Linked DNA regions of Homo sapiens. The protein of the gene in region 2 interacts with the protein of the main gene of each other region in a biochemical or structural test. Each region holds a gene or a part of one and is shown on either strand. Other genes may lie near its edges. The genes, in order: COPB2, COPB1, COPE and COPA.

The links.
Region 1: the proteins of COPB1 (region 2) and COPB2 form a complex in vitro, tested with the Homo sapiens proteins (one study listed by BioGRID).
Region 3: the proteins of COPB1 (region 2) and COPE form a complex in vitro, tested with the Homo sapiens proteins (one study listed by BioGRID).
Region 4: the proteins of COPB1 (region 2) and COPA form a complex in vitro, tested with the Homo sapiens proteins (one study listed by BioGRID).

Annotation. Positions count from the first base shown.
Region 1 is NC_000003.12:139,379,281-139,387,629, reverse strand, and holds part of COPB2 (coatomer subunit beta'), read left to right. Parts: intron 1-2,200; exon of another isoform or gene 2,201-2,626; intron 2,627-4,194; coding exon 4,195-4,332; intron 4,333-8,163; coding exon 8,164-8,250; intron 8,251-8,349. UniProt on the Homo sapiens protein: The coatomer is a cytosolic protein complex that binds to dilysine motifs and reversibly associates with Golgi non-clathrin-coated vesicles, which further mediate biosynthetic protein transport from the ER, via the Golgi up to the trans Golgi network.
Region 2 is NC_000011.10:14,456,385-14,462,533, reverse strand, and holds the end of COPB1 (coatomer subunit beta), read left to right. Parts: intron 1-1,202; coding exon 1,203-1,348; intron 1,349-2,236; coding exon 2,237-2,326; intron 2,327-3,846; coding exon 3,847-4,002; intron 4,003-4,650; coding exon 4,651-4,710; 3' UTR 4,711-5,022; downstream 5,023-6,149. UniProt on the Homo sapiens protein: The coatomer is a cytosolic protein complex that binds to dilysine motifs and reversibly associates with Golgi non-clathrin-coated vesicles, which further mediate biosynthetic protein transport from the ER, via the Golgi up to the trans Golgi network.
Region 3 is NC_000019.10:18,901,405-18,909,753, reverse strand, and holds part of COPE (coatomer subunit epsilon), read left to right. Parts: intron 1-2,641; coding exon 2,642-2,794; intron 2,795-3,818; coding exon of another isoform or gene 3,819-3,887; intron 3,888-4,124; coding exon 4,125-4,178; intron 4,179-4,901; coding exon 4,902-4,983; intron 4,984-6,330; coding exon 6,331-6,486; intron 6,487-8,349. UniProt on the Homo sapiens protein: The coatomer is a cytosolic protein complex that binds to dilysine motifs and reversibly associates with Golgi non-clathrin-coated vesicles, which further mediate biosynthetic protein transport from the ER, via the Golgi up to the trans Golgi network.
Region 4 is NC_000001.11:160,339,317-160,347,756, forward strand, and holds the start of COPA (coatomer subunit alpha), read right to left. Parts: upstream 3,935-8,440; 5' UTR 3,855-3,934; coding exon 3,815-3,854; intron 979-3,814; coding exon 865-978; intron 667-864; coding exon 593-666; intron 1-592. Other genes in the region: NCSTN (nicastrin isoform 1 precursor), read left to right, coding at 4,081-4,165, 5,406-5,510. UniProt on the Homo sapiens protein: The coatomer is a cytosolic protein complex that binds to dilysine motifs and reversibly associates with Golgi non-clathrin-coated vesicles, which further mediate biosynthetic protein transport from the ER, via the Golgi up to the trans Golgi network.

The DNA.
Region 1 (8,349 bases), on a different chromosome or scaffold from region 2:
CAATGACCCTGGCTTTAAGGAGGATCTACTCTAGAAAGCAAGAAAAGATGTGTACACAAGTGTACCATGAACAGTTAAAATGAAATCCTATAGGATTCCCTAGGAAAGAATGCTTCAGGCTAGGGTAACTAGAAAGGTCTTACTGGTGGCAGTGGCATTTAAGCTGAGTCCTAAATGCATCCAGCTTTTGGAAGGTGGAGGGATATATTTAAAGTTGAGGATACAGTGTGAGCATCCTAATCATCTTTGTCCCAAAGTACCTAGTACATTGTCTTATTCAAAATAGTCACTTAACTGTTGGGAGAAATATTATCACAAGAACCCTTGCCTGTTCGTTCTTTCTTTCTTTTCTTTCTTTTCTTTTTCTTTTCTTTCCTTCCTTACTTCCTTCTTTCCTTCTTTCTTTCTTTCTTTCTTTCTTGACAGAATCTCACTCTGTCGCCCAGGCTGGAGTGCAGTGGTGCAATCGTGGCTCACTGCAACCTCCACCTCCCAGATTCAAGTGATTCTGCAGCCTCAGCCTGCCGAGTAGCTGGGACTGCAGGCGCGTGCCACCACGTCCAACTAATTTTTTTTTTTTTTTTTGTATTTTTAGTAGAGACGGGGTTTCACCATGTTGGCCAGGCTGGTCTCAAACTCCTGACTTCAGGTGATCCTCCCGCCTCAGCTTCCCAAAGTACTGAGATTACAGGCATGAGTCACCACGCCTGGCTGCCTGTTCTTTTTTAAACTGAGATTTGTGCTTTGGGAGTATGTAGAGGTTTACTGGGGTTGCTCAGAGTTCATTGGCCCAACTTATGGAGCATCACTTTTACTCAATAATCAATAATTTAAAATATTTTAAAGTAAAATGTTCACAATTTGTAAGTGTCCAATTTCCTCATTACTGGAGGAAAATTGTGAGACATGCTGGCTTATATGAAAACCCTCACCATGGTTCCTGCCTGGTACATAATAGACTCTTCATACCTGTTGACTCCATAGAGATTTAAAAAGAAGTTAAAATTTGTAATAGTAATTTATGGGGCAGAATTCAGAAATGAAGTAAAAAGCCTTGATTTTGGGAACTAGCAAGGAATGTTAAGATGATGATTTGAAAGTGGAAAATTGGAGCTGGGAGACCGAGGTGGGTGGATCACAAGGTCAGGAGAGGAGTTCGAGACCAGCCTGGCCAATATGGTGAAACCCTGTCTCTAAAAATACAAAAATTAGCTGGACATGGTGGCAGGCACCTGTAGTCCCCAGCTACTCGGGAGGCTGAGGCAGAATCCCTTGAACCTGGGAGGTGGAGGTTGCAGTGAGCCGAGATCACGCCACTGCCCTCCAGTCTGGGCGACAGAGCAAGACTCTGTCTCAAAAAAAAAAACAAGAAAGTAGAAAATTGGAGAGAGGAAGGGACTGATGACAGTGAAAACATTTTTGAGGAGATTGAAGAGAAGAGCCAGAGAACTCTGATCTTTTAAAGTAAGAGGTAAAGGTTGTTGCTGAAAATGAAGGAGGCGTGGGTAGAACAAGACTTGAAGTAGTCAATGACCCAAATTTGATAAAAATCCCCAAAAAAGATGAGTAAAAGCATTGTGAGGTGTTTTGTCTCAGGAAGTTGTCTCTGCTAGATCTTCTTTTTATATTCAAAAGTAACCTTAAATTTCTGTCCCATTCATGATCATCATAGAAGATCACAGCAATAAAGATTTGACAGTAACTCAACTTGCCAAATGAGCTTTTAGGTTGTGTTTAAGACCTGTTGAAGGGGAAATATATTTTAAATCAGTCTTTTCTCAGCATGCCTCCTAGAGAGAATTAAGCCCACTGCCCTAAGGATCATTGTATATATTGAATTAACTTTTCTCCTATAATGGCATTTTTTGGAGAATGGAGAAAATAGTTATTCAAATAATTATCTGTTCTGTAATTCAAAGGAAGAATTTGGCTTGAAAATGCTAGTATAAACTATTCATATTTTCTGACTTGAGAGAATGTTTTTATTTTTGTTTTAAATTTTTCCAATTTTCATTGTTTCTGTAATTTAAATCCATTAAAATATTTCAGACATTCCCATTTGATACCAAAGGCCATCATGCATAGGGATATAACCCTTATTGATCACACATTATGTTACCTAGCATTTACTAGTATTTTTGACAAGATAAATCTACCATTTTTCTCCAAAGAACTCAATATTATGCTTTATGGTTACTAGGACTTCATGAATAACACTTCTTCAGAATATTTCCTGATATGACACTATTGACCTGGGCACAAAATTGTGATTTGTGAATATTTAAAATTCATTGGCCGGGTGCGGGGGTTCACGCCTGTAATCCTAGCACTTTGGGAGGCCGAGGCGGGCGGATCACAAGGTCAGGAGATCGAAACCATCCTGGCTAACACGGTGAAACCCTGTCTCTACTGAAAATACAAAAAATTAGCTGGGCATGGTAGCATGCGCCTGTAGTCCCAGCTACTTGGGAGGCTGAGGCAGGAGAATCGCTTGAACCCGGGAAGCAGAGGTTTCAGTGAGCAGAGATCAGCGCCACTGCACTCCAGCCTGGACGACAGAGCGAGACTTCGCCACTGCACTCCAGCCTGGACGACAGAGCGAGACTTCGTCTCAAAAAGAAAAAAAGTAAATTTATTTACTAGATAATTCTATGAACTAGAGGTTCTCAAAATGTGGTCTGCGATTCCTTAAGAGTCCCTAAAACTCTTTCAGGAGGTCCACAAATTAAAATTATTTTCTTAACAGTGAGACGCTATTGGCACCTTTCACAATGTTGATATTTGCACTGATGGTGTAAAAGTAGTGGAAGGTAAAACTGCTAGTGAAGTGACACCAAATTGTACTGTTAGTATATTCTTCATTGTGACAGTTTTTTAAAAAGTCATTTTCACTTAAGAATGTCATTGATGAAACAGTAAAAATGTTATTACCTCTCCACACTTGAGTATGCATCTTTTAAATTCTGTGTGGTGAAATGGGGAGTATGCATAAAGCAGTTCTACTGCATACCGAAGTATCGTAGTTGTCTCAAGGGGAAACACTTGTAGCGTTTTTAAGTTGTGAGCTTTACTTGAAACAATGACTGAGAAACTCTGCTTATTCAGACTTGAATATTTGGTCGACATTTTTTAAAAACCTGAAAGAGGTTGGCTGGTCCCTGACAGTATTTCTTGCCAATGATAAAATTAAAGCTTTCAAGTGAAAGTTCGAATTTTGAAAAACTCACTGAACTTGATGGATTTCCAATGCTTAAAGGCTTATCAGTTGAAGTAGGTGGTGAAATTAGTGAATGTGTAATTTTTTTAATACAGTATCATGATGTTGTTAGCATCTAGAAGATGTGCATAATTCAGTGGACCAGCATTTTCCAAACGACCAATGCTTAATGGTAGAAAAACATGCATGAGAGAAAGATCCATTCAAAGTATGGACTTAACCAATGGATTTTAATGTAACGAAGTATAAACAGCTTATTGATACGGTTTCAGATTTTACCTTGCAAGTAGCCTTTAAGAAACTACCACTTCTCGAATTTCGAAGAATTTCAAGTAATGAAAAAACTATTAAGATACTCCTCACTTTCCAACTAGGTATCTGTGAGACCAGGCATTATTTTGTAGACATTAACCAAAACAACATATCACAACATATTGAAGGCAGAAGCAGATAATGAGAAACCATCTGTCTTCTGTTAAGTCAGATTATAAAGAGTTCTGCAAAAATGTAAAATATTGCCACTCTTTTCACTAAATTTTTTGAAAACATAGTTATTTTTCATAAAAACATGTTATTTTAATTAACATGTACTGGATTTATTTTTGTTATTTGAAAATGAATTAATATATAAATATTTTAAAGTTGTCTCAGGTTTAATTTTTAACATGGTAACATGCCAATAGCTAAAACTCACATAAACAAAAGCTCTTAGGGGTCCTCAAAGTGTTTAAGGACTATAAAGGAATCCTTAGAGCAAAAAGCTTGAAGACCACTGCTGTAAATCTTAAAATGTTGAATATTCTGATTTTTTTGATGTGTAAATGAAGAAATAAGTGCTTAGACTTGAAACTGTTTCAAAAGCTTAGCAAAGTAGTAGCTGAATTGTTTTGTAGGCCTATTCATGCACTTATTTAGTTAAAATCTCAAACATATTTTATTTGGCTTAGCAATTTAATTTTTTTAATGTTTCTTTTTAGCCTCTGCGACTTGATATCAAAAGAAAGCTAACTGCTAGATCTGATCGAGTTAAGAGTGTGGATCTGCATCCTACAGAGCCATGGATGTTGGCAAGTCTTTACAATGGCAGTGTGTGTGTTTGGAATCATGAAACACAGGTAGGAATTTTTCAGGACTGTATTAGAAATAAAATACTATGTGAGACTGTGTTTATAATGAAAGAGAAGAAATATTATAACAGAATCCAGAATCTATATGCAAACTGCTTTCTCAAGTTGGTACAAAGTATTTTAAATATGAAGGAACTAACATTTATGAGGGGATAGTTTGTAGGAGAAACTGTCCTGGGTATGTTATATACAATATTTAAATATAACAACTCTGACTTAGGTAGTATTAGCTCTTTTTTGAAATTGAGAAAACTGATGGTATTATAGAATCACTTGCTAAAGTATTTAATCGTTAGTTTTCCATTCAGTGAATACTCTATCTTAAGAATGATATCGTTAAATTTATTTTTCTCCCAGATGCCCAATATAATGATACACAGATAAATCTTTCACTCAGCCATATAGATTATATCAGGGAAATATTTATAGTCAGCTTTTGATTATACACACATCTTACAGATTGTCTGCCTGAATGCTTGACTCATTCTCTTTCACCTGAGTAAATAACATATCCTTCAAATTAGTTTGTCTCATATTTTCCAGTCTTCCTAGACTGTATTTAAGAGTACAAAGCATATAGTTAGCACTATACTATACAGTTGTGTCTACTTATATAGTAATTATCCTTAACGTCCAAAGTTAAGTTCTTGAAATCCAGGTAAAATTCGCATTTGAGGAATTTAAAATGGCAAAATGACATCAAGGAACCAAAGCCAGAAGTAAACCTAAAAACACCTTTATACTTTTATACTCACTGTAATGAAACAGAAATGACTGTACACTAAACTCATACCCTGTATTAGTCTGTTCTCACACTGCTGTAAAGAACTACCTGAGACTGGGTAATTTATGAAGGAAAGAGGTTTAATTGACTCACAGTTCCACAGGCTTAACAGGAAGCATGACTGGGAGGCCTCAGGAAACTTAAAATTTTGGCAGCAGGTGAAGGGGAAGCAAGCACCTTCTTCACATGATGGCAGGAGAGAGAGAGCAAAGTGGGAAGTGCCACACACTTTTAAACCATCAGATCTCATGAGAAGTCACTATCACGAGAACGGCAAGGGGGAAATCCACCCCCATGATCCAATCACCTCCCACCAGGGTCCTCCTCCAATTTGACATGAGATTTGGGTGGGGATACAAATCCAAACCATATCATAGTCCATCAGTGACATTTTATATAAATTAACATTTTGTTTTCTGCTGTATCTCAGTACCTATAACATTACCTGGCACATAGTAAATGCTCAATAATTATTTGTTCAACCAATGAATAATATGCATTTCACTTATCACTAGTTCAGTATTTGTGTTCTCTACAATTTCAGATCTTTATCTTGTGAATTGTTTTTGCTTTGATGCAAATAACTTTTTTTTTTTGCTTTTTGTTTAGTTCTTGAGATGTTTAAAATATTTCTGATTTTATGTTTAACAGATACGTTGGTGTCCTCTCTCTCTGATTATTCCTAGGGATTCCCTCTTATCAGCTACATTTACCTATCTCAGCTCTATCACTTGATCATCGTATGTTCTAAAGCCCAGGCGTACTTTTCTTATCTTTCTCTAGGCTTTATTGTAATATATCTCTGCTTTATCTGCATTTCCACTTTGCCTCCTTTTTCTCTTCTATACCTTTTTCTGCCCTATGACAGGACCATCTGCTTCCCCTTTCATAATTCATCTCAGTGGTAATTTCATGTTTAATTTCCTTCTTTCCTCTAAGAATGGAGGTTCTGTGAGGACAAGGATTACCCTCATCTTATTTCCCACTGTTGGTCCAGTGCATGAGGCACTACCTGATACACTGTCAGGCTCCTGGTAGATAGTAAGTCTTTGTTGAATGATTAATCTGTCTTTGATTCTCCCTGTTTTTTCCCTGTGTTTATATCACCAACAGCATTTACCACTCCTATATTGAGAGCAAATTCTTGAGAGAGCCAAAAAGGTTTTTGGAAGTAAAAAGGTTTTTAGATGTACTTGAATTTCAAATAAGGAGATGCTATATATTCTTTGAGGTGGTACATGCAGTGGTTTAAAAAACATAGTATTTTAGGATTTGAAGCCAACTTGCTGATTAAATTATATAGGCAAGCCTTTTAACCATGCTGAGCCTCTTTATTTATCTGAAGTGAAGATGATATTATTGCCTTGCCTACATCACAGGATTGTCAAAAAGATAAAATAAAATTAGATAAAATTGTGTATGAAACCTATAAAGTACCATATAAGTATTAGTCATTAGTTATACTTTCCTAATCTACGTTGAGTATTTGTATGTATTGTGTGTGTAGCTTTTCTTACTCTTTATTTGCATCAGTCATAGCCCCTAACATGGCGTTGAACCTTGGCTATTTCTTCTGCAGCTGCTTTATTTTTACTGCTCAGCAGATCCCTGGATTTGTTGGCTCCTCATGAGCTTTTGTGGATTTTTCTGCCGTGTTATAGATCGCATGTTGTGTCTACTCTCAGTTTCTGTATCATAGTCAGCTGGTAGTGATTCTACAGGTTAGAGTTGAAGTGCCTACTCATTCAGCCTTTGTCTAAAGAATCTTTGAACTCTGGCTTGAAAAGTCAGAGTAGGACAGTTCTTATGAACCGGTCCCTATTACTTTTTTAGTGCACATGGTTAATCAATCAGTAAGATTATATTGTGTTTCTTAGTTATTTCATTTTTGCTCTCTGATACAAAAAAGGATTAGAAAATGATAGTTTGACTTTCAGACTTTTAAGAACAGGCATCAAAGAAGGAGAACAAAGAGGTACCATGATCTCTGCTCTTTCTAGGAGGGTCTCTACCTTTATCCTATGTGTATAATTCCATTCTGAGCAGCTCGGAGGAACATATAAGTCACGGTGTTTTCATATTTTATTAAAAAGAAATAATAACATTTGTATGGAATCATATTGCTAAAGCATGCAAAAGAATTGTACCTTATTCATGAGTCACTTTTATGGGTTTCAATTTCAAAAAGACTGACTAGGTGCAGTGGCTCACGCCTGTAATCCCAGCACTTGGGAGGCTGAGACGGGTGGATCACTTGAGGCCAGGAGTTCGAGACTACCCTGGCCAACATGGTGAAACCCCGTCTGTACGAAAAATACAAAAATTTGCTTGGCATGGTGGTGCACACCTGTAATCCCAGCTACTTGGGTAACTGAAGCATGAGAATCACTTGAACCTGGGAGGCGGAGGTCGCAGTGAGCCAAGATTGTGCCACTGTACTGCACTTCAGCCTGGGTGACAGAGTAAGACTGTCTCAAAAAAAAAAAAAAAAAAAAAAAGAAAAGAAAAAAAGAAACTAAGAGCTAATTCATTCAACAAATATTTATTACACACTACTTGTGTGCCAGCCACTGTTCTATCCTCTGCCTATACAGTGTGAAAAATATTCCTGCCTTTGGAGAGCTTAGCAGGAAAGATTGGCACTAAACATAATTATGAGGTGCTACATTATGAAAGGGAAGTACAAGTTTCCATGGGTGGATTTTCAAGTCAGAGACAACAAGAGCAGAGGTGAGGCTGGGAGTAGCCAAAGGTGAGGCTGGAAAAGGGAGGGAAGGGCTGGAGCACAGAGGATCTGGAATACCATCTTGTGGATATTTGCCTTCTCTTATCTTTTAAAAAGTGTTTTAATTTCGAATCTATTAAAAGATAGTTGGTCTTTTTTAAAAATTTGAATGTTGAGCTTTTATATTTTAGCCTGAGAATATACTAAAATGAGAAGTGATCTTAAAAATTGGATGTTTGAAATATAACAGAGTAGATTTTGTGGTTATTTTCTTATAGCTCAATTTGTGTATTCTTGTTACATTTTAAAGACACTGGTGAAGACATTTGAAGTATGTGATCTTCCTGTTCGAGCTGCAAAGTTTGTTGCAAGGAAGAATTGGGTTGTGACAGGAGCGGTAAGTAATTAATATGAATCTCTATTCCCATTTTCTGAATTGGTCAATGATTGTGTAAATTTGTTGCAGGATTTTGATTCCCGATTTGTTTTGTTATTT
Region 2 (6,149 bases):
GAGGCCGGGCACAGTGGCTCATGCCTGTAATCCCAGCACTTTGGGAGGCCAAGGCGGGTGGATCATGAGGTCAGGAGTTCAAGACCAGCCTGGCCAAGATGGTGAAACCACATCTCTACTAAAAATACAAAAAATTAGCCAGGCGCGGTGGCAGGCGCCTGTGGTCCCAGCTACTCAGGAGGCTGAGGAAGGAGAATCATTTGAACCCGAAGGGTGGAGGTTGCAGTGAGCTGAGATTGTGCCACTGCACTCCAGCCTGGGTGACAGAGTGAAACTCCATCTCAAAAAAAAAAAAAAAAAGAAAAGAAAAGAGCCTAGAAAGAGGAATGTAGGCTCCAATCAGATTATAACTCTCTACTGTGGAAGAAATGGTCATAGAAGCAAATATAGTCAGCCTTCTGTATCCGTGGGTTCCACATCCATGGATTCAACCAGCCACAAACTGAAAATATTTTAGAAAAAAAAAAAAATGGTTGTGTCTATACTGAACATATATAGACATTTTTTCCTTGTCATTATATCCTAAACAATACAGTATAACTATTTACATAGCATTTATGTTGTATTAGGTACTGTAAGTAAGCTAGAGATGATTTAAAATATATGAGAAGATGTGTATAGGTAATGCAAATACTATGCCATTTAATATCAGGGACTTGAGCATCTGTAGATTTTGGTATCCATAGGGGGTCCTGGAAGCAATTCCCCATTAATACTGAGGGATGACTAATCTTGTATCATTAAGTAGTATGGGTCAGCAATATTTATTCAAAAGTATTAGTTAAGTACCTCCTATGGGAACATCGTCCACTTGTATATCTGCTGCAGTGCCTAGTATGCTGCAACTGCTATGTAAGTACTCACTGAATTGAATTATTTGTTTAACCACAAAAAACAAAGTGTGCCTGAGTTCGAATCCTATCCCCACCACTTATCAGTTGTGTGATCTGGAACAACTTACTTAACTTCTCTGCTTTCATTTCCTCATATGTAAGATGGAAAATAATAATACTATCAGAATTGATGGGAGTATTAAACCAGTAATATTTATAAAGCATGTAGAATAGAGCTCTGTACATAATAAGTATTATATAAACAATCTTATTGTTAATAGTGTAGTTCTTTGGATATTTGGATATTAAGATTTTTTAAATTCAAGTTTGCCCCAGTGATTGCGAATCTTTTTGTATATGTAATTGCAGTTTATGATGTCTCTGGAGCAGCAAGTGACAGAAATTGTGTGGTTCTCAGTGATATTCACATCGACATCATGGACTATATCCAGCCTGCAACTTGCACTGATGCAGAATTCCGTCAGATGTGGGCCGAATTTGAATGGGAAAACAAAGTTAGTCCTTGGGAGATTTTCTCATATTCCTTTATCTTTCTTCCTTTTGCCTGCTGTTGAGGAGTCTGCTAATAAAATTAATCTCGCTAAAAAGTGTTTAACATGAAAAGCAAATAGTCTTTCAGTATCTGTTCTTGCAAATTAGCCTTAACTAAAAATCATGTAAGTAGTTTGGTAATTTGCTGTTATAAATTGATTAGAGTAGCAGTTCTATAGCCAATCTGATAGGTTTAGACATTATAGGTAATATTCCATCCCTTCTATGTATGACCAAGAGCTTACCATTTAATCTAGTGCCCGAAAAAGGCTTTACAAAGTTCATGGTCTGTTGAGGAACTTTGTCCCTTTGAGCCTTGACTTTTATTAGAAATATTCTATATGAGGCTGGGCACGGTAGCTCGTGCCTGTAATCCCAGCACTTTGGGAGGCTGAGGCAGGCAGATTGCTCGTGCTCAGGAGTTCTAGACCAGCCTGAGCAAAATGGTGAAACTCCATCTCTACAAAAAATACAAAAATTAGCCCGGTGTGGTAGTCCCAGCTACTCCGGAGACTGAGGTGGGAGGATCACTTGAACATGGGAGGTTGAGGCTGCAGTGAGCTGAAATGACGCACTGCACTCTAGCCTGGGTGACAGAGTGAGACCCTGTCTCAAAAAAAAAAAGAAATATTCTATATGCTTCATATTGAATCTCTGTGAAGTTATCTCTATTGGGAAGTACTGATACCAACCTACAGCTTGTTGGATTTTATAGATGTTATTTAGTTTCTTGGTGTCTACTCTTTCCAACCTAAACAGTTGGAACAAGTTTTTAATATGACATACTGGTGATTCACAGCTTTCTCATAGTAAGATTTATGATCTCCTTGACTTTTTTTTCCTCTCTACAGGTGACAGTTAACACCAACATGGTTGATTTAAATGACTACTTACAGCACATATTAAAGTCAACCAATATGAAATGCCTGACTCCAGAAAAGGTAAAATTTGACTAGGAAATTCAGAAATCTGATGGAATGGTAGAGTAGGTTCCTGGCCTTCCTGTATTTCCTCTAGCACATTTTTGTTATTCAATATGCAGTACCATTCTAGGCTATCTAAAAGATGTTATCCCATAGAATGTTGGAATCTGCTTACCTCTTTCTATTGGACTATACCATCCTACTTTTTCCTAGTGCAGTGACCCAACTGAATAGTCAGATTAATTTTTTTTTTATTTTCTTTTCAATCTTCTCCCCCATTCAGCTAGAGGCACATTCTAAAGTAGTTTATGCTGCACATGGTGGTTCATTCCTGTGATCCTAGCACTTTGAGAGGCTGAGGCGGGCAGATCACTTGAGGTCAGGAGTTTGAGACCAGCCTGGCCAATATGGCGAAACCCCATCTCTACTAAAAATACAAAAATTACCCAGGTGTGGTGGCACGTGCCTGTAATCCCAGCTACTTGGGAGGTTGAGGCAGGAGAATCACCTGAACCCCAGGGGGTGGAGGTTGCAGTGAGCCGAGATCACACCACTGCATTCCAGCGTGGGTGACAGAGTGAAACTCTGTCTCAAAAAGATAAATAAAATCGTTTATTTGTAATACTGGATTAGAAAATGTCCATGAGCTCTTCCGTGGGCTCTGATTGTTGGTTAAAATATATGTGCTCAAATACAGAATCGTTGTTATACTGTGACTTTTTGCTATGTTTGTGTATGTATGAAAAAAACGAGAGAGAAAGAAAAATGAAGCTGGAGCTCTAAGGAACTTTTTTCTTTATGTAAAATTTCTATAATGTTATAATATTCATTTTATAAATAAAATAATGTCTGCTACCAAACAAGTAGGTTTTAATTTATATATTAGTTTATTCAGCATATACTGAGTCCAACAAAAGTAGTCTCTTCCTTCATGGCGCTTAAGGTCTGATATGGGAGGCAGTCAAGCAAGTTAAGTAAACAGAATATATAAATACAAATCGGATTAAGAACTATTTATTTAACATCAGATTTATTGAGGTATAATACACAGTAAAATTCACACTTTTTACATGTATAGTTGAGTTTTGACAAACTCATAAGATTATGTAACCACCACCCTGTATGTAAGTACTGTTTTAAGTGATAAATAACCAATGGGGCTGGGCGTGGTGGCTCACACCTGCAGTCCCAGCATTTTGGGAGGCCGAGGCGGGTGGATCACTTGAGGTCAGGAGTTCAAGACCAGCCTGGCCAACATGGTGAAACCCTGTCTCTACTAAAATTACAAAAATTAGCCAGGTGTGGTGGCGAATGCCTGTAATCCCAGCTACTTGGGAGGCTGAGGCAGGAGAATCGCCTGAACCTGGGAGGAAGGTTGCAGTGAGCCGAGATCACGCCACTGCACTCCAGCTCCAAGCTGGACAACAGAGTGAGACTCTGTCTCAAAAAAAAAAAAAAAAAAGTCACCTATGCTGTTTGGTTTTTGCCTCTATGTAGGTATCTGGTAAAGTAATGAATTTATCACAAATTTTTTCCAGGCCCTTTCTGGTTACTGTGGCTTTATGGCAGCCAACCTTTATGCTCGTTCCATATTTGGTGAAGATGCACTTGCAAATGTCAGCATTGAGAAGCCAATTCACCAGGGACCAGATGCTGCTGTTACCGGCCATATAAGAATTCGTGCAAAGAGCCAGGTAACAGTTCCTTTTTTTTTGAGAGTATCTCTGGACTGACAAAGGGGGGAGGAATTTATGACTTTATTATTTCTATATGTAGTATCTTTTTAGCATTAGATGCATATACACATACAATAATAATATACTCTGAATAGAAGTATAACTTTTCTCATTAAAATTTCTCACCTTTTGGGCCCCTCATTCTGGGATATTTGCCTAAAACCAGATTGATTCCTATGGGGTGTTTGTGAAATGGGTTCTCTAGAATTTTTTGAAAGCCAAGGTGTAAATCTAGTGACTAATTAGCTGGGTGTTGTAGCGCACACCCGGTAATCCCAGCTACTCGGGAGGCTGAGGCAGGAGAATTGCTTGAACCCGGGAGGTGGAGGTTGCAGTGAGCTGAGATTGTGCCATTTCACTCCAACCTGGGTGACAGAATGAGACTTCGTCTCAAAAAAAAAAAAAAAAAAAAAAATCTGGTGACGGCTTGAAAAATCTAGCACTGAAAGGTAATTACCAGTAAAGTTTGGTAAGTCTGTTTGGTATGTCCTTGATTTTATTGTTGATAATGGTGTCATTGAATTGAATTGGGGCTTAATAATATGGAATAACCTACTGATTGTACATAGTTTAAATAATTATAAATATCTTAATTTTTCTTTACAGGGAATGGCCTTAAGTCTTGGAGATAAAATCAACTTGTCACAGAAGAAAACTAGTATATAAAAATAAACAAAAAGTCCTTGAAGCTTTACAGTTAATTTAGGTATGGGCTTACTGGACTCCAACATCTTTTGTACTCTTTCATGCTTATATAGAATCTGAGTTCATGCTGAATACTTTTCAGCCAATAATTTATAGCCTTTCCCTTAAATCAAGATTGAGTTTAAAATTATAGTTTGTCTTTTGTCTTAACAGTTCTGAATGCTGTCCTCAAAGTATATAATGTTTCATGTACCAAGACCCTTTTCACAGTACAATAAACAGATCTATTCATAAATTTTTGTTATTTTATAAATAAATGATTACATAATTTTAGTTATATGGCAATGGATTTCTTTTAGTTGGGTTATAAATTTCTATTATAAATTTAAATTACTGAGTTGTGAATATATGCAGCTTTATTAAGAGAATTTACAAATTCAATGATATAAAATAAGGTAGGCCTTGATTCACTTGGTTGTTTTTTACTTATTTAATATTCCAACATTGCTATCTCTAAAAATGCATTATCATGTTTTGAAGGGATTTGCTCTTGAATTTAGCTCCAGGGAGAAAGTATCAAAATAACTTTTTTTTTTTTTTTTGAGATGGAGTCTGGCTCTGTCACCCAGGCTGGAGTGCAGTGGCGTGATCTTGGCTCACTGCAAGCTCCACCTCCCGGGTTTACACCATTCTCCTGCCTCAGCCTCCCAAGTAGCTGGGACTACAGGTGCCCGCCACCACGCCTGGCTAATTTTTTGTATTTTTAGTAGAGACGGGCTTTCACCATGTTGGCCAGGATGGTCTCGATCTCCTGACCTCGTGATCCGCCCGCCTCAGCCTCCCGGAGTGTTGGGATTACAGGCGTGAGCCACCGCACCCGGCCCAAAATAACTTGAGAAAACAGATCGCTCTGCAGTTTAAAGAAGTATTATGTACCCGAACTGAAATAGATATACTGTTCTTAATTATCCTGAATCATAATGAAGAGTAGATAATCCAAAATAGATTTTTTAATCATTCACATTTAGTTTGGGGTGTTCTATGTTTGTTAGGAATAAAACTGGTTCTAACCAATTACTGAAGCTGGTACTGGGAGGATTCAACTAGAGAGGATTCAAAAAGCTGCCTTTTTCTCTGTTGCCTCCGTGCCTTACTCACATTTAGTTTAGGGTGTTCTATGTTTGTTAGGAATAAAACTGGTTCTAACCAATTACTGAAGCTGGTACTGGGAGGATTCAACTAGAGAGGATTCAAAAAGCTGCCTTTTTCTCTGTTGCCTCTGTGCCTTACTCACTCGTCTCCTTTTCCTCACTTCACACTAGGACTGGGTACCATCACACTGCAGTATAATTCCAAATGCATTTCCAAGCTAAGTTTCCCAGCGTCTGATTGTGCTTTCCTTTTGGCCTTTACTTTCATTGGGGGTGATTGAGGTAGTCTGATTTTTTAGCTAAGTCTAA
Region 3 (8,349 bases), on a different chromosome or scaffold from region 2:
ATCACCTGAGGTCAGGAGTTTTCAAGACCAGCCTGGCCAACGTGGTGAAACCCCATTTCTATTAAAAATACAGAATTAACAGGATGTGATGTCTGTGATTCCAGCTACTTGGGAGGCTGAGGCAGGAGAATCGCTTGAACCTGGCAGGCAGAGGTTGCAGTGAGCCAAGATCGCACTAGTGCACTCCAGCCTGGGTGACAGCGGGAGACTGTCTTAAAAAAAAAAAAAAAAAAAGGAAAGAGGCCCACAGAGTTAAGCCCATGTGACAACAGACTGGAGTGACATGTCTGCTAGCCAAGGAGCACCACGAGTGGCCAGCAGCCACCAGAGCTGGGAGAGAGGCCTGGGACGGCCTTGCCCTCCAGCCTCCAGCTGGAGCCAGCCCTGCCGCCACCTTGACTTCAGACTTACGGCCTCCAGAGCTGTGAGGAACGAATCCCTGTTGTCCTTAACTGCCCGGGCTGTGGTGCTTTGCCACAGCAGCTCCAGGACATTGAGACAGGTGACCTCCCAGGGCCACTGTTTCTCCCACCCTGCACTTACTTCACCAGCTGGAGTGAAGGCAGGGAACCCTGGGTCCCCCAGGAGCAGCAGCTGCTGTGAGCATCACAGAAAAGCAGCCCCGGAGAGCAGGCGGTCCAGGCAGGGGCTTGTGGTCCGTTCATCTGGCTGCACAGCCGCGACCTCATTGGCAGGACGCCCCGGGGACAAGGAGCATCCATTAGTAATTGGTTTTGGTTTTGATTTTGTTTTCTTGAGATACGGTCTTGCTCTGTCGTTCAGCCTGGCATACAGTGGCACAATCTTGGCTTACTGCAGCCTTGATCTCCCAGGCTCAAGTGATCATCCCACCTCAGCCTCCCGAATAGCTGGGACTACAGGCACGCATCACCATGCCTGGCTAATTTGTATATTTTTTAGAGATGGGGTTTTGCCTGGCCGGGCGCAGTGGCTCACACCTGTAATCCCAGCACTTTGGGAGGCCGAGGCGGGCGGATCACGAGGTCAGGAGATGGAGACCATCCTGGCTAACACGTGAAACCCCATCTCTACTAAAAATACAAAAAAAATTAGCCGGGCATGGTGGCGGGTGCCTGTAGTCCCAGCTACTCGGGAGGCTGAGGCGGGAGAATGGCATGAACCCGGGAGGCGGAGCTTGCAGTGAGCCAAGATCGCACCACTGCACTCCAGCCTGGGCGAAAGTGCGAGACTCCGTCTCAAAAAAAAAAAAAGAGAGATGGGGTTTTGCCATGTTGCCCAGGCTGGTCTCAAACTCCTGGGCTCAAGCGATCCGCCCAGTAATTGATTTTGTTGCTGTTGCTTGTTTTTGAGATGGTCTCCCTCTGTCACCCAGGCTGGAGTGCAGAGGTGTGACCACAGCTCACCGCAGCTTCAACCTCCCGGGCTGAAGCCATCCTCCTGCCTCAGCCTCCCAAGTAGTTGGGACTACAGGCGCCACCAGGCCCAGCTGACTTTCTTACTTTTTTGTAGAAAAAGGGGTCCTACTATGTTGCCCAGGGTGGTCTTGAACTCCTGGGCTTAAGCGATCCTGCCTTGGCCTCCCAAAGCGCTGGGGTTACAGGTGTGAGCCACAGTACCCGGCCCCATTGGTAATTGTAACACCTTAGGATGACAACATTACAGTACCAACGCTACGACAACTGGCAGTGTTTATACACCCTTGTGTGCTGGAGCCTCAGGAAGCTTTGTAAGATGGTCTTGGGAGCTCCTTGCTCCTCCCCTGCATGATCCCTGTAACATGGTCCCTCAGCACGGGGAAACAGACTCAGACCTGAAGTCACTTGTCTGTTGGACCTGGCACTGTGGCGAGCCCTCAGTGGAGCCTGGTTGGTATCAGACATGCCATGCCCTCAGTGACACCTCAGACACGGGCCCTGGGCAGACAGCCCCCAGATGCGCGTGGATGCTTACGGGGTCACAGAGCCACGTTTGAACCCAGAAGAACACCAGCTTTGGTCTAGGGTGGCCCCCTCACCTGCCTTCTCTTTTTAGCTGCTCAATAGCCATGGGGAATGGAGGGTCTGGGTCCAGTTAGGGACATGGAGGCATGGGTGACCTGTGCCCTCGGAGCTGAGCCGGTCCTCAGCCTTGCCTGGGCTCAAGCCTGGCCCTGGCCCGCAGCACACTGGCCATCTTCAGGGTGCAGCCAGCACCCTGGGCTCTCAGGGACTGAGGGCAGCTGCCCTGGCAGTGGGGGTGCCCCAGGGCTCCCATCCTTCTGCACGGCCCCTCGGCACCCAGGCCGACCTCCTGCTAGAAGACGTGGCCTTGAAGCCCACAGGGTTGATGGGTTATGGTCAGGAGTCCCAGCTGGGCCCACCAGCCTCCTCAGGAAGGCGGGTGAGGTTGGTGTGAGACTGACGGTGCCTCCTCATGTCCCCTTGGAGCGCCCCACCCCACATCTCCCGGCCTCGGGTCCTTGCCTGGCCCAGCATGAGAGGTGCTTCATAGGAACGGAGGGAGGACATGTCGGGACAGCTCGATGCTCGGCCTGCTGCTGCTCTGCACCCCCAGGGCCTGGCTCACCCTCTCTGGACCTGTCTGCTTCCAAGGAAGGGGACCCTCTGAGGTCCCACAGAGGCCACCCCAGCTGTGGGTCGTGAGCATCTCTGTCTTGCAGGGACAGCATCGTGGCCGAGCTGGACCGAGAGATGAGCAGGAGCGTGGACGTGACCAACACCACCTTCCTGCTCATGGCCGCCTCCATCTATCTCCACGACCAGAACCCGGATGCCGCCCTGCGTGCGCTGCACCAGGGGGACAGCCTGGAGTGGTGAGTGGCCTCCCTGCTCTGGGGCCAGCCCAGGGAGGCAAGTGCCCCCTGCCACATCTCCAGGCTGCGCACGGCCTCGCTGGCTGTCGTCATGGGAGCAGAGAAAGGTGGTGCTGAAATGAGGCCCTGGCCTGCTGTCCAGGCTCCAGCTCCCCTGCCCAGTGTGGGAGGCACTCCCATCTGCGCACCAGGCTGCAGATCCAAGGACACGGTGCCCAGGCTGCAACCCTCTGTTCCCAAGGGCAGAGCAGAAAGCGGCTTTGTCTCTGCTCGGTTTCTGTGTCCCCACCCCCCACGAAGCCTTCTGTGTCTCGGCCCTGGGCCCAGTCTCTCAGGCCTCCCCGGGCCCCCCATACCGGCCCTCCTCCAGGGCCCTCTGGGGTTGGGGTGCTGAAGCCCTGCAAGGTTGGTGCCCCCCTCCACCCTAGGATGTGACTCCGGGCCATGTCCAGGGCACTGGTCACAGAAAGTGTGTCAGTTCTTCCCCGTGAGCTGTCCCTGCAGTGCCTGCCTTCCACTGTGAGTTGCAAGCTGGGCATTTCATGGTCGCTGTGGATCTGCTCCCATCCCACCTCCATCCACAGAGGGCTTAGAATTGCAGGGCGAGCCAGGCATGGTGACATGCACCTATGTTTCCAGCTACTTGGGAGGCGGAAGCAGGAGTATCCCTTGAGTCTGGGAGGTGGAGGCTGCAGTGAGCCGTGATGGTGCCACTGCACTCCAGCCTGGGTGGCAGAGCCAGACCCTGACTCACACACAAAAAAGAAAATAAATAGGGATGTCACACTGTCGGCGAGCCGGCCGACTCGGTGCTGGTCCAGGTGCTGGCTCCTGTTGGCAGGAAAACAAGAACAAGAGGCCTCACGAGTAATTCGTGGTCACAGCCACCTGGGGCTGAGAGGGATGAGGGGACGAGGGGGCCTGCAGAGAGTGGGTGGCCCCAGGGCTCTGCTGCAGGTGCAGGTGCAGGGGCGGGTGCGTGGCCCTCCTCTAGGGCCTTGTTCCTGAGTGTTGATGCCTCCAGGGTGTCGAGTCCGGGCAGGGCCCTCCATCTGGAAGCACAGCCCATGGAGGCTGCTTCTCCAGATGGGCGGTGAGTGGGCCGGGGCCTGAAACCCCATCCTGGGTACCTCCCCCAGAGCTCCTGGGCCTGAGGAAGCTGAGCGGTGAAATGTGGGAGTGAGGGTGTCCTCCTCTGCTGGGCGGGGCTGGTGGTCCTAAGCACAGGACTTAGGAACATCCCAGACACACACAGTGAGCCCTGGGTGTGGAGCGGCCATGCAATGTGTCTGTGGCGACCCGCTGACCGCCCCCTCGCCCTGTCCTGCAGCACAGCCATGACAGTGCAGATCCTGCTGAAGCTGGACCGCCTGGACCTCGCCCGGTGAGCCCTCCTGCCCCTCTCCACCCGCACTGAGCCACAGCCCAGAGCGTCACAGCCCAGAGCGTCACAGCCCAGAGCGTCTGTGGTGCTGTCATTACTCTTGTTGTCTTTCCTTTCCATGGGGGTGGCTTGCTGTCGTTCAGCCCTTCCCTGCAGTATGTTGCCAGGGAGGAGGGCCATGGCTCTCTGTGCCTCAGTTTCTCTCTATGCAGTGGGTGGCAGGCCTCTCCCACAGGGTGAGGGTGGGCTTCATGGAGGGAGAGTGGAGGTTGTGCCTGGAGCAACATGTTACTTGACCAGCTTGTAACTGTGCCGTGGGGCTGGCGGGGCCTGCACGTGGCATCACCAGGTCGGAGGCCATGGCTGGGGGTCCAGGACTCCCCTGCTGCCGTTTCCAAAGCCCTTGCCTCAGAGTTGTTCACACTGTAGTTCCGTTGCCCTTCCCTGCGTTCCATCCTCCATGGAGTGAGTCTCTCCTGAGCTCTACCTTGTGGTGGCCACCCTGGGGGGCCATAGCTGGCCCCAGTCCCACCTTCCCAGGGCCTGCACGTGGTCAGACGGGCAGGGTGGCTCGGGCACTTAGTCGTGGGGTATGAGCATGCAGTGGAGCACAAAGCAGGGGCCATCCCCAGGCTCCGGTGGGCCCCAAGTGGGGACAAGGCAGGGATGGCCAGGCCAGGGCCCTCGGCCACTCAGCCCCTCTGTCATCTGTCCCCGCCCCAGGAAGGAGCTGAAGAGAATGCAGGACCTGGACGAGGATGCCACCCTCACCCAGCTCGCCACTGCCTGGGTCAGCCTGGCCACGGTGAGCCCTAGGCCATGAGGTGGGTGGGCATTGCGGGCACCTGGCTGAGCAGGGTCTGTGGGCACCCCCACCTGTGCGTAGGCTGCTGGCCACTCCAGTGGGGCTCCAGGATCAGGCCGTGGCCCCTGCCAGCCTGGCATAACTCAGCCTTGACTCCATTCCGGGCTTCTCACAGCCAAGCGACTTGGCCAGAGCCAGAGCGAAGAGATGGTGGGGGCGGGGACGGGTTCCTGAGCCTGAGGCACAGGGGTACTCGAGGGTCTGGGTTGGCCTGGCAGGCCCTCCTCCCCTCAGGGCTTCCTGGGGTTTTCTGCGACTCAGCTTTGCTCTCCAGGGTCCTGGTCGCCAGCCAGGGACGGAGTTCAGTGTTCCCATAGCAGCGGTGGAGATGTCCTCAGCTCCCAGGCCTGGGCACCTCCGCCCGGCAACAGCCCCTCTCCTGGTTTCTGGGACTTGGCCCCCTTCTGAGCCACTCTTTTGTGTGGGCCTATTAAAATGTGCTTCCTGGCTGGTCGCAGTGGCTCACGCCTGTAATCCCAGCACTTCGGGAGGCCGAGGCGGGTGGATCATGTGAGGTTGGGAGTTCTAGACCAGCCTGACCAACATGGAGAAACCCCATCTTTACCAAAAATACAAAATTAGCTGGGCTTGGTGCCATGCACCTGTAAACCCAGCTACTCAGGAGGCTGAGGCAGGAGAATCGCTTGAACCCGGGAGGTGGAGGTTGCGGTGAGCCAAGATCGCGCCAGTGCACTCCTGCCTGAGCAACAAGAGTGAAACTCTGAGAAAGAAAAAAAAATGTGCTCCCCGTCCCTGCCCGCCACGGGGCTGAAGCCTCACCCAGACAGACTTCCAGTGACCGTCTAGTATGGTAGGACAGGCCCCGGCAGACCTATCGGGTAGTTTGGGCTGTTTTCACTGCCTGCCTTGGCCTCAGGCTCCCCCTGCAAGTGTTCTGCTGTTCTGAGCAAGTGGACAGGTCAGGGCTGCTGGTCACAGAGCTGACTCCTCCTCCTCTGACGTGCTCAGTGACCCAGTGGTCCCCACTCAGACCCTGAGCCAGCCACCTGTGCACTGAGGCCTTGGAAGCCCCAGATTCCACCTCTGTGTACTCAGCACTCCGGGAGCTGGGTGGGAGGTGGGGCAGGAGGCGGCCACGAGTCTTTAGGCCCCATCAGCAGAGTACAAGTTACGGGTAGTCCCCATGGCGGAGTGGCTGTGCCTTGAACCGGGCACACCAGATTCGTCTCTGTGCAGTGCTGGAGTCCCCCCCGCTAGGGGAGGGGGCTGGCGGGGGAAGGGCCGGGCAGCAGGGGCACAGGCAATGATGCGGGACCCTCCCTGCAGGGTGGTGAGAAGCTGCAGGATGCCTACTACATCTTCCAGGAGATGGCTGACAAGTGCTCGCCCACCCTGCTGCTGCTCAATGGGCAGGCGGCCTGCCACATGGCCCAGGGCCGCTGGGAGGCCGCTGAGGGCCTGCTGCAGGAGGCGCTAGACAAGGTAGGCACAAGCCTGTCCCAGAGTGGGGACGGAGGGAAGGCCAGGCGGCCAGAGGGTGGGGTCAGGGCGGACAGAAACAAGTGTAGCAGAGACCCCCTGGGTGTGCGTGTGGCCCCACAGGGCTTCTAAGGCCCAGTCAGCAGCGAGATCCACAAAGCAGGGATCTCACCTGCAAAGAAATCCAGATTCCGGCCTCACAGAAATGGGGCATCTGGGCAGCCTGGGCCTCAGTGGTCTGAGCCGTCCTTGTTGTCACCTCAGCTGCCTGGCCCGGGACCTGCAAGTGGGACCCCTCACCTGAGTACATACTCAGTATTGGAGAGACACTCCCCGTACTTATGTAGGGGAGAGTGTGCTGTGGACAGGAGCTCTTCGTTGAGAGAGCGCTGCCTGCCCAGGGTGGCTGCAGTCATCTCCTGCCTGATGTCTGCAGTCTTTTCTTCCTTCCTTCCTTCCTTCCTTCCTTCCTTCCTTCCTTCCTTCCTTCCTTCCTTCTTTCCCTTCCTTCCTTCCTTCCTTTCCTTCCTTTCCTTCCTTTCCTTCCTTTCCTTTCCTTCCTTTCCTTCCTTTCCTTCCTTTCCTTTCTTCTTTTTTTTTTTTTTTGAGATGGAGTCTCACTCTGTCACCCAGGCTGCAGTGCAGTGGTGTGATCTCAGCTCAATGCAACCTCCGCCTCCTGGGTTCAAGTGATTCTTTTGCCTCAGCCTCCCAAGTAGCTGGGATTACAGGCGGCTGCCACCACGCCTGGCTAATTTTTGTATTTTTAGTAGAGACGGGGTTTTGCCATGTTGGTCAGGCTGGTCTCAAACTCCTGACCTCAGGTGATCCACCCGCCTCAGCCTCCCAAAGTGCTGGGATTATAGGCGTGAGCCACCACGCCTGGCCATCTGCAGTCTTTATGAAGAGTTTATGTTATGTTAAATTAAAAATATATATATATTTTGTAAAGACGGGGTTGTTCTTGCTGTGTTGCCCAGGTTGGTCTCGAACTCCTGGCCTCAAGTGATCGTCCCACCTCAGCCTCCCAAAGCATTAGGATTATAGGTGTGAGCCACCATGCTTGGTGGATTTTTTTTTTTTTTTTTTTTGAGATGGAGTCTTGCTCTGTCGCCCAGGCTGGAGTGCAGTGGTGTGATCTCGGCTCACTGCAAGCTCTGCCTCCTGGGTTCATGCCATTCTCCTGCCTCAGCCTCCCGAGTAGCTGGGACTACAGGCGCCCACCACCATGCCCAGCTAATTTTTTGTATTTTTAGTAGAGATGGGGTTTTGCTGTGTTAGCCAGGATGGTCTCAATCTCCTGACCTCATGATGCTGCCCACCTTGGACTCCCAAAGTACTGGATTACAGGCGTGAGCCACTGTGCCCAGCCTGGATTATTATTTTTATAATCAGAAAGGACATCAAAGCTTTTTCCATTTTGGAGAAACGAATTTTGGGGGGTTTTTTGTTTGTTTTTTGAAACGGTATGCCACCATGCGTGGCTAATTTTTGTATTTTTTGTTAGAAATGGGGTCTCACTGTGTTGTCCAGGTTAGTCTTGAACTCCTGGGCTCAAACAATTCTCACCCTCCTTGGCCTTCTAAAGTGCTGGGATGATAGACATGCGCCAGTGCGCCCAGCTGAGAAACAGTTTTAATCTAGTGACAAACACTGGTGAAGCCCTCCTCCCTGTCTGACTTTCCAGGGGCTGAGTTATCATCAGAAAGTTGTTTGCAGAGCGGGGCTGGCCAAGGGGTATCAGGCTGGCCCCATCACAGGCCGGGTACTGCTCCTCCTGAGCAGGGTCCATCTTTAGCTCTGAGCAGTCAGGGCTAGTCAGGAACTCCCAGCCTGATGTGCAATCTCAGACAGGCTGTGTGTCCC
Region 4 (8,440 bases), on a different chromosome or scaffold from region 2:
TTTAATTACCACCAAGTAATCATTTTAAAAACATATAAATCTGGTATCACTCCTGTATTTAAGTTCCTCAAATGGCTCCTAGTTATCTGCATGATAACATCTAAACTCCTGAGCGCCACAAACAGGTACTCCATGATCTGGCCCCTCTCATCTTCTGCCCCTTCTCTCACCATTTCTCCAGGTTTTCTCCATACAAAACCAATAACAGCTGCCCTGTATCTAGCTGTGTCATGCTTTTTGTCTTTGCACCTATACTGCTCTTTCCTATTTCACTGTGAATATCTCTCTATTATATTGCTTACCAAACTGTACATGCTATTACTTGGATATATGTTTATCTTCTGTATTAGAATAAAAGCTCCTTGAAAACAGAAGCCATTTCTTATTTATTTTTGAATTCCCTAAAAAGAAAACAGTGTCTGGTACACAGTAAGCATTCAATAAATGTTTGCTGAGTAAGTTCTCCGGATAATGTTGTCAAAGGCCTGAGCTCTGTATGAATGAAATTTCCTGTCTTTCAGTTCCTTTCATGATTCCCAAACCTTCCCACATCCTCTTTCCTTTATTCTCAGTTATGACAGACCCTCTGTACCTTAATCTTATAGTCATCTCCTCCAGAGACGAACAGTGGCTGCTGCTTATGGAAGTCAATGCCTCGCACTGGACCTGGTGGAGAAGGCAGGCAATGTATGTTAGACAGAGCTATCCTTTCTAATCTCTAAGGTGATTCCTATTCAGGATTTTTCAGTTCTATCATTTCCACATTCTTTAATCATAGAGGAATCCATGTCAAACAAGGCTTAAAATACCCCAGGATATTATAAATACTTATACTCCTTTAACTTCCTCCTAGAAATATCTCACCATCATGTTCATCAAACTTGTCAATGAGAGTGCACATCCGATAGTCCCATAACTGGATGACCCCATTATGTAAACTAGTCAGGATCCAAGGTCTTTTGGGGTGAAAGCTGAGCCCTGAAAAAAATAGAAAATGATACAATGAGCTAACTAAGCCCCATGATGTCACCTTCTGTCAATTCTGATAAGAAAAAGAAACATCAAGGTTAATCCTAGGTTCATTCATTCGACATGCTTGATGATTTTTTACTGGATGCCAGACATCGTGAATTTTATGTTTGGTACTAGATTTTTGTCATATTCCTTTACATATTCTTGGGCTTTGCTCTAGGATACAATTAAGTTACTTGGAATCAGTTGATCCTTTCAAGGCTTGCTTTTAGGTTTTATTACAGAGGGGCTACAGCAGCCTTCATTCTAGGCTTAATCTGGAACCACTATTAAAGCAATAGCCATCTGAGGTCTCTATTTGAAGCCCTGTAATATTAGGAAGTCTTTCCTTTCTGGCAAGTAGGAACACAAACTAGTCCCAGTTCACTAGTGTGAACTCTGGGGATTGCTCTGCCTTCTCCTTTCCAGTGGTCCTTTTTCAGGTTTTGAATAGTTTTCTCACATGCAGATCAGTACTCAAACAAAGACCTGAGAAGACATCCTGCAGATCTCTAGTGCTCTCTCTCTGCAGCCCCCTCTTCTCCGGTATTTTGCCCAACAAAATCTAGCCATCTTTGCTTCCCCACACTCTAAATTTATGTCTCCTCAGAAAGACCAAGGGATTCCCCTCTTCACTGAAGCCTAAAAACTCTCTAGGCAGTAATCTACGACAATCACAGGACTCACCTTGTTTATTTGCCTTCTCTGGAGAATTATTTTCCTGCACTGCCTGTTGCCCAACATCTGTGAGCAATGTATGAACCTTTGTTTCATACATTTTGTTCAGTTGTATAGTTAAGGTGGGAAGGTAAATCTGGCTCTTGTTATTCTATCATGACTGGAAATGGAAGTCCCCAGAGGTAACAACTACTAACAGTTTGAAGTGTATCCTTTCAGATTTTTAATGCAGTTACACATAGACATAGGCTTTAGTATTTTATGAAAGTGGGGATCACGTTATGATGTTGTTCTGCAAACTTCTTCCTCACTTAACTATATAATATGGATCTCATGGAAGTACATATAAACATAACCTCATTCTTTTTAACTACAAGGGACAAATGTACTACACTTATATTATTCTAACAGGCATTTTGTCCGCCAATTTTTGGCTATCAGAAGAGCCTACTGAAGATACTTCTACACATAATCTAGCCTATTTGCATTATTACTGCCCTAGGCTAAAGACCTGTGAGATTGCTCAGGAATAGAATATGTGCACTTAACATTTTAGTACATATAGTTTAAATGTAAAAACACTGTATCAATATACAGTCTCATGAAGTTTATGGAGGTGCCCATTTTGCACACAGGCTGCTATCAGCTATTTGTTGTTTTGTTTTATAAATCTAAGACCCTCCCCCCAAAAAAGTAACTTAACTTTTTTTTTCTTGCATTTCTTTCATTACTAGTGAGGTGGAACTATTTTAATTATTTATTGAACATTTACAATTTTTCTTCTAAATTGTCTATTTTTCCATTAGGTTCTTTTTTTTAATTATGATATATAAGTACACTCAACAATGGATGTTTGCCCTCAAATATTATGACATCTTTGTTTTTCCTTCTGTACTGCCCAGCAAGAAATTAGGAGCAGAAAAGAAAACTGAAAGATTATGAAGACCCATTTCACATTTCACCTATACAGGTCTCAGAAATTCTTAATGGTACCCATCTTTCAAGGTCAAGTTTCCCAAGAGACTTAGAAACTGCTCAGAATATATTCACACATTGATAACAACCTCCAGTTTTTGAGCTACTGAGTCTACACCAGGCGCTGTAATAAATACACTCCATATACTTTCTCATTTTAATACTCTCTATAAAAGACGATTTTACAGATGAGGAAATACAGACTTAGAGACATTAAGTAAGTCATCCAAGTCACAGCTTGTTAGTGGATGTCTCAGGATTCCAAGGCAAGCCCATCTGACTTCAAAGACCAAGTTCCTAACCACTTTGTTACGCTGCATCTCACTAAATATTCTAGATACTATTTTTTCCAGGTCTTCGGAGACCTTACTTCTCTGACTTTCACATTCTAACGTTCTGAGGCTAATACTGCGATCTCAGTATTTGCCCTCCACCCCCAACGACCCACACTCGAGCTCTAGAGCTGCCGTACTTAGCAAATAAAAATACGAGATTTCCAGATAAATTTGAACTTCTGGTAAGCAACGACAGACTAAAAAACTATTCATTGTTTACCTGAAATTCAAATTTAACTGGGTATCCTGCATTTTATCTGGCAACTCTATCAAGTTGAGACTTTATTGGGGTTATAAGCCTCAAGTACTATTTCCGGGTAGTAAATAAAGCCGAATGGAGGCACTGATGTTGAGATGCTGCAGCCAAGGCCTCCTTAAGTGAGGTTGCCACTACTCGTCTCCAAAAAGGCTACTGACTCGGGTGCGAGTAACAGAGATCGAGACTCAGTTCCCAGGGCCACTCCATATAACACAGTCATCAAAAAGCCAACAGATCACAGGGCCTTTGGAGCAGAACAACACAAATCGGGAGCACAGCCAAGAGAGAAAGGGGGAAGAAAGAATAGGGAGGGGGTCTAAGGAATCCCCTGCAGTGTGGGAGCCACTTTATAGGTAAATCGAAGCCCAAGGACACACCAAAGAAGAGGGGACTGGAGAACCGCTAGCCAGGCCCAACCTCTCTCCCACCCTCCGTCTTCCTCCGGGTCCGTCTGGTGGGCCCATTTCGACCAACACCTCTACCCATTTTCTCTTCCCCGGTGTCAGCGCCGCTCCTGACATCCAACCTCCATGTTCCCCCTTTTATTCTCCACTACCTTTGACCCGCGCGCTCTTGGTCTCGAATTTGGTTAACATCTCTCAGGTCTCCGACTCCGATGTCTTAATCCGAGCCCCGACACACCCTGCTGCCCTTCGGACGCCTCCACGTCAGCGACCCTCTCCCGCGGTTTCCGGAAGCGCCTGGAAACACGAACTTCCGGTCTCTTAGGCTCCGGGCCACAGAGACGGTGTCAGTGGTAGCCTAGAGAGGCCGCTAACAGACAGGAGCCGAACGGGGGCTTCCGCTCAGCAGAGAGGCAAGATGGCTACGGCAGGGGGTGGCTCTGGGGCTGACCCGGGAAGTCGGGGTCTCCTTCGCCTTCTGTCTTTCTGCGTCCTACTAGCAGGTGAGGCCTCCCCGCCCGTGAGCTCCGTTCTCTAAGGGGAACTCTCGGATCGGCCCCGCCGCGACCGCCACTGTCTCCCTTCTGGTTCCTGCTGCCCCTCTGTCCCCCCACCCTGTAAATCCTCTTTCTTTTTCGTTCCCACGACAGAAGTTCCCCCTTTGCCTGGACCTGAAGGTCCCTTCTCCCCCGCAGCACGTCGTGTCGCTTCACTCCCTTCTCTAGGCCTCTTCCTGGACTTCGAGCCTGACCCTCTCCCACTTTGTCCAGATGTCTCGTTTTTCCCACAACCCCAGCCACCCACCCCACAGTCGAAAGGAACAGGTGTGAAAGTTAGCTTTCTTCCTCGCGTTTAGACTTTTTGAGACGAAAGCAATCTTGTTCTGTGGGTGCTGTGCGGCGCTTAAAAGGTGGATTTCTTATTTCTTCCTCTGTTGATTACATCCTAAGTCTGTGTCCCCCTGCCTTGCCTCAGGTTTTTTTTTTTTTTTTTTTTTTAATCAGTAAAGCAAGAATAAGGTAGGATATGGGTACTCTTAACTGTGAAGACCCTGAAGTAACAATTCAAGGAACTTTTGGCATTTATAATGTACTTAAGTGTTTGCTGATACGCGTTCATTTACTGATACATGGCTTTTTAGTTGGTCAAGCCCTAAAATGCAAATGCCTGTATATAACTATGACTGTGCCTTCCCCCAATTCACATTGTTTTTAAGGATCCTCAAAGGAGAAACTACAGCTGCCCCACACTGTGGGCACACAAATGACCTGCTGATGTTAAATTAACTGACCCGTGTATGTCATAAGGTTTCTCTCAATTCTGTTCACACTCTTGGAAAAATGCCTCAGAAAGTTTTCTTAGCCCAGCACCTGTGTATTAACCAATTAGTAATATACATACAGGATATACAAGCAGAAGTGTGATCACCTGTGCAACCAGAATCTGGCAAATCTAAGGTCAAACACCTTTCCTTTGACCAAGTTTTCTCTCTTTTAGTGTCACTGTCAATGGCGCTACATGGACTTTGTAATAACCCTTTGAGGCACATAGCTGGGTGCCATGTAGAACATGTATCTGTTACGATAAGTGTGTGCCCAAGAAATCAGAAGAATGGACTTTAATCTCATTTTAGAAAGTATGATATTAAATGATTTACCCAAGCCATACTTCAGGTTAATGACACGATAGAAGCTAGTACCTGTGTCTCTCAAATTTTTCTAACACTTTTTATCTTCCGATCAGGTTTGTGCAGGGGAAACTCAGTGGAGAGGAAGATATATATCCCCTTAAATAAAACAGCTCCCTGTGTTCGCCTGCTCAACGCCACTCATCAGATTGGCTGCCAGTGTGAGTTGAGATGGATTCATGTTTGTGGACATTGATATTTGTCTGTGCCCTAGATACTAAGTAACATCCATGTCCTGCTTAGGAGATTTGACACTTATATTGGACTGTATGTAGGCAGTTACAGATAACCGTCTGTCAAGCTAGGCAAGATAATTAATAAGAACTAACATTTAGTAAATGCTGCATACCAAGCTTTTTACATGTGCATCTCATACAACCCCAACCACAACCCCACAAAATAGGTCTTACTGTTATTGTCACTTTATAAATGATGAAACTAAAACTTAAAGAAGTTGAGTAACTTTCCCAAGATCATACTGGTAATAAGTGATGATGCCAGGATCTGGTGGCCCGAGCACTAAGCTGAGAGACCTTTTTTTTTTGACACGGAGTTTCACTCTTGTCCCCCAGGCTGGAGTGCAATGGCACGATCTCGGCTCACGGTGACCTCTGCCTTCTAGGTTCAAGTGATTCTCCTGCCTCAGCCTCTTGAGTAGCTGGGATTACATGCACCTGCCACCATGCCCAGCTAATTTTTGTATTTTTAGTAGAGATGGTGTTTCACCATGTTGGCCAGGCTGGTCTCGAACTCTTGACCTCAAGTGATCCACCCACCTTGGCCTCCCAAAATGCTGGGATTACAGGCGTGAGCCACCGCACCCAGCCGAGCCAGCACTCTTAACCACCCTATTATACTGTTTTTTAAGGAGAAAAAAGTCTCATATTCTATGGTGTCCAGTTATCACTTGCACTCTGAACTTTTTGGAACCAAAATGGGCTAAAGGCAATGAACTATCTGAAGAGAAGGCACTGAAAATGCCAAATAGGCTGGGCGCAGTGGCACATGCCTGTAATCCCAGCACTTCAGGAGGTCAAGGCGGGTGGATCACTTGAGGTCAGGAGTTTGAGACCAATCTGCCAGCATGGTGAAACCCCCCCATCTCTACTAAAAATACAAAAATTAGCCGGCTGGCTGCTATGGCATGCCTGTAGTCCTAGCTTCTCGGGAGGCGGAAGCAGAAGAATCCCTTGAGCCCAGGAGGCGGAGGTTGCAGTGAGCTGAGATTGTGCCACCATACTCCAGTATAGGTGACAGAGTGAGACACTGTCTGAAAAAAAAAAAAAAAAAAAAAAAGAAAATGCTGAATAATTGCAAGAGGAATTAGTGAAGCATTCTATTTATCCTTTTTTAAAACTTTTTTTCCTTAAATTCAACTGACAGGCCGTTTATTTTCACACTTTGTGTGTTCCAAAAGAAGGTTCCATGACACTGTGGCTTTAAAAACTATCAAAATCATAGGGCAGGAAAAGTAGTAATCTAAAGGCTAACCTGCTGTCTTCAGATTTTGTTTCCCATGGACAATAGCTCTGTCAGAATGTAGTTTTGCAGATAAGCAGGAAACTTGGGGTCTGATACTGGCTTCTTCATCATCAAATTGATCACCTCTGAATTTCAGTTTACCCCTGGAATAATGGTTGGAGTACTTGCATAAAGCTGAAAGTCAAATACCTCTTAATAGTTGTTTATTGATGACGCTAGGTAAATAGGGTGGTCTCAAAAGTGCTGTATAATTTCCTGAAGCCTTCTTCCCATTTGATAAGAGAAAACTGGGACACTGAGAAGTGAAGGACTTGTTCGTGGAAGCAGTTACTACTTTTTTAGCCATCTTTCCCTGAGCTATAGTATCTGTTAATTGTCCCATGTCCCTGCTATACAAAGCACTGGGAGTAGGTTGACTGGTTCCAAACAGCCCCAAATAAAGTTTTTGTTGTACTTAGTTTCTTTTTTTTTTTTTTGAGATGCAGTCTCGCCCTCTCGCCCAGGCTGGAGTGCAATGGCACAATCTCAGCTCACTGCAACTTCCTCCTCCCAGGTTAAAGCAATTCTCCTGTCTCAGCTTCTTGAATAGCTGGGATTACAGGCGCGTGCCACCGTGCCCAGCTAATTTTTTGTATCTTTAGTAGAGGCGGGGCTTCACCATGTTGGCCAGGCTGGTCTCGAACCCCTGACCTCGTGATCTGCCCGCCTTGGCCTCCCAAAGTGCTGGGATTACAGGCATGAGCCACCATGCCCAGCCCTCTGGACTTAGTTTCTGAACTGGTTTGTAGGTAGAAGAGAGCTAGGTCCAGGGTGGGCTGAGATCAGACTGCTGGTCTTGCTGGAACCTCACTATAAAGTACAGAAGGCCAGGACCCCAACCTCTTGTAACTAGGCTCTAAGAAAACTCCTTTGGGAATAAGTCATTCTACTCTATGTTCTTAAAACAGCTCTGTAGGAAGCAAAGCCTCTAGAGGTAAAGCCACGTGCCAGTACAGAGAAACAAGAGGGGGTAAGCGGGACTGTGGCCACTTCCTCATTAAGATCTTGGTTCCTTTTCAACCTACTTATTTCCAAATCTTACTTCGTCATATCTGTCTTTTCTGAGCAGGCTCCGCCCTTTTTAATTAGTGTAGCTAACATGATAAAACTAAGGAGAAAAAAGTGATACCCAGATTTGATTTCTGATTATAATACTCTGCTTCTCTTAGACGCTTTAAAGTTCTCAAAGGGGGCTTTAAATAGGTTTCTTTTCCCTCCCTCCCTCCTTCTATCCTTTCTTCCTTCTTTCGTCTGTCCCCACAGTATGAGATGAATAGAGGTAGAAAACCTCATTGAAGGCGCAGAGAAAATAAGCAAGTTACTTAAGACTACACCATTACTAGTTGGAACCCAGATTAGAATCCAGGTTTTTTTCAGTCCAGTATCATAGTTTGTCTTCCTGTCCTCGCTGGAGTTGAAGTTTTGGGGTGTGTGTGTGTGTGTGTCAGAGTCTCACTATGTCACCCAGGCTGGAGTGCTGTGGCACAATCTCAGCTCACTGCAGCCTCCGCCTCCCAGGTTCAAGCAATTCTCCTGCCTCAGCCTTCTGAGTAGCTAGCATTACAGGTGT